2 separate regions of the Homo sapiens genome follow, and region 2 is linked to region 1. The links come from fine-mapping of genetic effects on gene expression. Tissue or cell type: blood mononuclear cells. Region 1 holds a variant in brackets; the other region holds the start of a gene. All regions are shown on one strand. Distances are between the middles of the regions.

Region 1 (2,914 bases):
TGATCACCAGATTGGTGTATACCCAGCTGCCCATTTTATATTGCCAGTTGTATATACCTTAGGAATCTTAGACTCAGTATATTCAAAACTGAACTTGGCTCTACCATACCTGCTGCTCCTTTTTTATTTCACCTAAGGAACTCCAGCAGTCACTCAGGCCCTTAAGTCAGAAAGCTTGGCACCATGTCTAATCATTTTCCTCACCTTTCACCTTCTACTGTCCCATCATGAAGTTCTCATCATTCTAGCCACTTAATATTTTTCACATACATTAATTTTTTTTCTGAATCCTCATGGCTGCTAAATTTTAAGCTATTATTTTTCTCCTTGAAACACTACTACAACTCCCTAACTGATCCTCCTAACTCTAATCTAGCATCTCACATATACTTCCTCCCATCCCAAGTCAAGCCCTATCCCACACTAGCCAGAGTCAAATTCTAAAATGCAAATGCTAATGATAATATACAAAACCTTTAAATGACCTTTAAGTGCTCCTAGCAAAGGTACAACTTTCTTAACATGGTCTATACATCCCAGTGGGATTTGATTCCTGTCCATCTATCTTTCTAGGTTTATCTTACCACCACTTCCATCCCCTCTAGAGCTTTGCTCCATCCACAATTTCTTTTTTCTTATCTCAGGGACATTTTTGTACATGCTTTTCTTGCATCTTGGAACATTTACCTTCTCCATACCCACCTGTGTTGGCCTAAATCTTACCTTCTTCAAGTGTTCTGGAATGCCCTTTTGGATCCACCTTAACTGTTTTGAGCCAGGTGTTCATGCCACACTTTATATTTCTCCCTCTAGCATTTACATATTTCATGGTGATTTTTCTCATTAAATATCTTTTTCCAAGACTAAAATGAGCTCTCTGAAGGCAAGGCAATATTTAATTTACTGCTGCATCCATAGCATCTAGCACAGTACCTGAAACATAGTAGGCACTATAATTGTTGCTGAATAAAACCAGAGGTCAGCTTAGCTCATATGTTGACATATGTGAGCACTCTGGGTCACAATTAGCATCAGCTGGTTATGCCACCTCCTGCTTCTCCTAGTACCTGCATCCCTGAATCATTAAGTCTAGCTGCAATAGAAAGTGGGGTATGGTTGAAAGGTGGGAGGAGTGGTTCCCTCTGATTTGCTTTTCCTTAGAGAATCTTCTCAACTGTAAAATAATTGAAAGTTGCGTTCCTTTCTAGACTCAACCCGAACTTTGTTTTGGTGCAATGTCACCATTGGAAGAGAAGGCTCAAAAAT[A/T]TACCTTTCATTGTGTGTTATATGAAATATATCTCAATAAAGCTGTTACGAACGTAAAAATGTGACCTTGAGCAAGTGAGTTTCCACGTTAGGAAATGGAGATAATAAATGCCCAGCATACCTCCTGGCATGTAATGAATTCTCAGTACATGTCATGTGGACTTGGGAGTCAGACAGTCCTGAGATGGAATCCTGTCTCTGCCTATTAGCAGCCATGTGACCTTTGGACACATGGCCTTTTGAATTGCCACTCAACACACTTCCTTGGATGGGGGAAGAAAGAGAGAGTACTAATCCTGTTTGAGTCCTAATATTATTAACTAATGGTTCTCTTTGGGCAATTATTTTTCTTCTCCATGGCACTCCATTTCCACCATCTATATTTGTTAAATTAAGGATCTTTCTAGTTGTAAACTTCAATGATTCTGGTGCCCCATACCCCGGAGACTTATTGAATCAAGATCTCCAAAAGGAGCCTTCTTTCTGGGCATCTGTGGAGTAGGAGGGAACAGCAAGGAAGACCCTAAAGACAAAGGACCCTAAAGAGGAAAGCCTGGGGCCTAGGGCTGGTACATCAGATGAAGACAACTAAGGCCAGCTCCTACCCAATGTATCAATGGTGAAGTTGATCTCTAAGGCCCGTCTCAGAGCTGGCACTCTGACTCAGAGCCAAGGGGTTGCTAGGAAACAAGGGTCTAGAGCCTGCTGGTCAGCATCATGCAGGCTTACATCCTGCCGATCAATCTCCCTCTTTTTTCGCTCTTCCTGACTAAGTACTTCTAATTGTTGCAGGGAGAAGAGAAATGCCACACAAAGAGAACTTTGGGAGTGCCCACTTTGGCTAAGTAATAGTAAAATGTAAATGGTAAGAGAATCGGAGCATGAAAAGACAGAAGAAAGAGAAGGCATGAGAGAATACCATTTGCCAACTCTGTGCCTTTGGGTTGTATATCTTACCCCTCACTCCCAAATCTCAGTTTACTTCCATAAAGATACCAATTTTAGGAAGTTGTAGGGATTAAATGAAATTGTGCATGTGAAATGCCCAGCATATCTCCTGGCATGTAGTGAATTCTCAGTACATGGCATAAGGACTTGGAAGTCAGACAGCCCTAGGATGGAATCCTGGCTCTACCTTTTATTAGCCATGTAACCTTGAGCAGATAAGTTTTCACATTAGGAAGATGGAAATAATAATTTGGACCTCACAGGGTTGTTATGAAGACAATATGAGATCATGTGATTAACTAACTCATAATAGGAACTCAACACATGTAAATCATTGTTGCCCTTTCCTCTGTCACCTTCTCTTCCAACACACATATACGCACATATATACATTCTTCTAGAACAATATAAGCTTGGTGTTCAGCTGTGCAAACATGCTCCCATGTGCCCTACTGCTGAGCTCCAGGCTGTGCTATCTGACATTCTCACCTTCTATTCCCACCTCCAGGTTTAGGAAAAGCTCAAATTCAAAAGCTGACAGATTAGCCAGGGAGAAACAGCCATGACATAGGAAGTCTGGCAGGAAGAAGACATATATCTTAGGCTGCTGTAGTCAGGACCAGAAAAGGCTGTATCATTATGCCTTTTGCTTGAGAAAACTAACAGTAATAATAATCATTATTGGCTTAATTATGTCTCA
Region 2 (2,914 bases), 26 kb before region 1:
TTGATACATATACACACATATATAATATGTATATATGTAAGACTATGAACAGTCCTAAATTTATACTTTGGGCTGATAACTGTGGTTTTCAGGAAAAAAAAAAATTTTAAACGGGTGCAAAGTCTCCCCAACTGGTCTAAGTGAGAAATCATTTGGCATTACCTCTCCCTTATCCCCTACCTGCTAATTACAATTTTTCAAATATAGTTATCATTAAGTGCAAACTACCATAATCTTGGCTTATCTTCATGGCAAACTTCAATTAGAAATTTAGAAAATGGGGAGAAAGAGTAAACAAGGTTAAGAGAGTGGGTTCTCAGATAGAATTGGGTACAAATTTGGGCTCCAACACTTAGGTATATGTGGCCTTGTGTAACCACCTAGGTTACACAACAGGTGTAGGTTAACCATCAGCTGCCTTATCTCATTAGGTCCTTATGAGGATTTAGTGAGCTATGCACCTGAAGTCCTCAGCTGTAGCCAGACAGCAAGTGTTCAAAGATGTTAGTCATTGTTTTTGTTTATTGTTTTATCATTGTGCAGGGTCACATAGCTAAGGGGAATTTCAAATCCAAGTCCATCCTACTTCAAACTCCTTTGTGCTCCTAAGCTGTACAGTATAGTCACCTTGGAGAGTAGGTGATTGGCCCCAAACTACTTCAGGGACTGCAGGTCGTGGCCAGCCAGTCCTGTATCAGACCTCGTCCTTGCCAGATGCCTAGTGCCCCAGATTCCCTCAAATCTCAGGCCAGATCACCTCCCACCTGGTAAGATTCCTCCACCTTCACCCGAGCAAAACTACACTTGGTTTGGGTTCCCGGGTACCTTCAGTCTGCAGGGACAGGGGCTGCAGAGTGTACTCCCCAAGTCTGCCTCTGCTGTCGGCCTCCCAGCTGAGTAGGCAAAACATTCCTTTACAGAGCAATGTGTTCATGGATAAACTTGTCTCTAGTGCAGCTCTCTGTCAGAGCACAGAACATGAGGCCAAAGCACTGCCCTTCCTAGGGAGTCCCGGTTCTCGACTTCCCCAGAATGGAAGTTTGATTTTTCCGTTGGCCCATTTCTCAGATGGAAAAACAGATTCAGTAAGGTGCCAACGCTTTGCTGAGGACTACCCTGGAGGCTACCGTTTTGTGAAGGGGTAGACATTGAGACTGGAGTCAGATACGCATTCTGGCTTATCTCCTGACTTACTGAGTGAACTTGAGCAGGTCCCTTTCGCCCATGGGCGTCGGTTTCTTCATCTGCACCAAGGAGACGGAAAACTGGATTACGTGTCGCTAAGGCCCCGGGTTCTCAGAGGAAAGCTCACCCCTGCAGGGCCGCCTTGCCCCGCGCGCTTGGGGCCAGCTGCACGACAAGCCCCAGCATGCTGGGGAGGCGGGGCTCAGTGACGGACAGGGAGCTCTGCGAATTGGCGCCCGGCAAGGGGTGCTCAACGGCGCGTGCGCAGAGGGAGGCAGGCGGGTGGGCTGCCGGCGGTGGACTCGTCGGAGCCGCGGGCGGTCAGGTAGGGGGCGGGAAGGAGGGTTGGGGACTGGGGACCGCGGCCGGAGTCGTGGGCCGTGGCTCAGCGGCCAGGCGGGGGAACGTGCCGGCGTGCAGCGGCCGCGCCCGAATGGCAGGGTGTGGGGACCGGATCTGGGGGGGGCAGGACTAGGGTGGGGGTGGGGCTGCGAGGGGCAGGCTCGGGAGGGATTCGTGGGGCTGAGGAGATCCGAGGAGATGCAGCTGGGGGAGGGGAGCGAGGGGCTCTGAAGAGATTTGCGGTTGCAGCATCTCGGGAGGTATGAGGTAATGTCGGGGCCCTGAGGAGGAACGGGGTGTAGCATGTGGGAGATGGGAGGGAATCAGGGCCCTGGAGGGACCTGGGTGCAGAATTTCAGAAATATGAAGGAACTGGGGGGCCCCGATGAGATTTGAGGAAATCTGGGGGCGCTAGGCATCTGGCAAGGACAGGGTCTGAGATGATAGGAGCAAGGTCTAGGGCGATCCTAAGTGCTATTGAGAAAGGGTTTTCGGAGTGGGCTGAGGGTGAGATTGAGGGGGTGGGGTGAGTTCTTGAGGGACTCTATCTTGTTAGCAGAAAGAAGGGAGCTGGCTGAGGTGTGAAGGCAGCACATGACATTCAGTGCATAAGAGGAAGGAGCAGGGTATGAGGGCAGCACAGTGCCCGATGGAATGCAGGAGATGGGGGCTCAGATTGAGGGAGAGCAGAAATCTGGGGTGAGGAATTGGGGCGTTGAACTGAGGTGCGGGGCTGAGTGTGGCAGAGATTTGGAAATAGGGATTAAACGATCTGAGTCCGAGGGATTTGGGGCATATGAGTGAGGAATTGACGAGGGTTGCAATATACAGCCCCAAAGATTGGAATTTGGAATTGTAAGAGGGTTGGGGACAGGGTTTGGAGAGGATTGAATCGTGGGGTGGAGATGTCCTAACTGGGCTATAAAATCAAAGGACCCTGAGTAGATTTGTGGATTGGTGTCTTGGGCTGCTAAAGAGATTTTCCTTAAATCGCTGCATGGGAGACAGAGGGAGTTCAGGGGACCCAAGGACCTAAAAGTAATGTATGAAACTGGATGAGTATATGAAGATGAGCAGAGTTCAGGTGCTGAGGAACAAAGTGATAAATCTTCAGTTCAGATAATCCTGAAGGAGTGTGGTAATCCCTGTGAAGGGCAGAATCTTCTTCATTTATTAAACAAAGATCCGTTATCATGAGGCAGGTATGGTATTGCCACTAACTCCATTCTGACCACCGGTCCCCCGGCCCACTGAAAGTGGTAGGCTTTGGGGAAGAAGAAGTGGAACTATTCAAGGTCATCTGCCTAAGCCCTTTTTCCCTGTACCCCCAAGCTACGATAGCAGATAGAAAGTGAGACCTCCAGGGGAATGAGTGGAATAATTTATC

Evidence for each region. PIP is the estimated chance that this variant, and not a neighbour inherited with it, causes the effect.
Region 2: it holds the start of TRIM32, and the variant in region 1 is the best candidate, but not a certain one, in a credible set for the expression of TRIM32 in blood mononuclear cells (TOPMed, PIP 0.88).

Annotation. Positions count from the first base shown.
Region 1 is chr9:116,711,527-116,714,440 of GRCh38, forward strand. All of the region lies in intron 16 of ASTN2 (astrotactin 2), which reads right to left. Among named protein-coding and RNA genes, the nearest start is that of TRIM32, 26 kb to the left of the region's middle. The variant A/T (reference allele first, on the strand shown) is at 1,267.
Region 2 is chr9:116,685,872-116,688,785 of GRCh38, forward strand. It overlaps TRIM32 (tripartite motif containing 32), which reads left to right and starts at 1,434. Exons shown (of 2, transcript NM_012210.4): 1 at 1,434-1,510. All of the region lies in intron 16 of ASTN2 (astrotactin 2), which reads right to left. RefSeq lists enhancers at 1,101-1,420, 1,861-1,910 and a silencer at 1,491-1,690.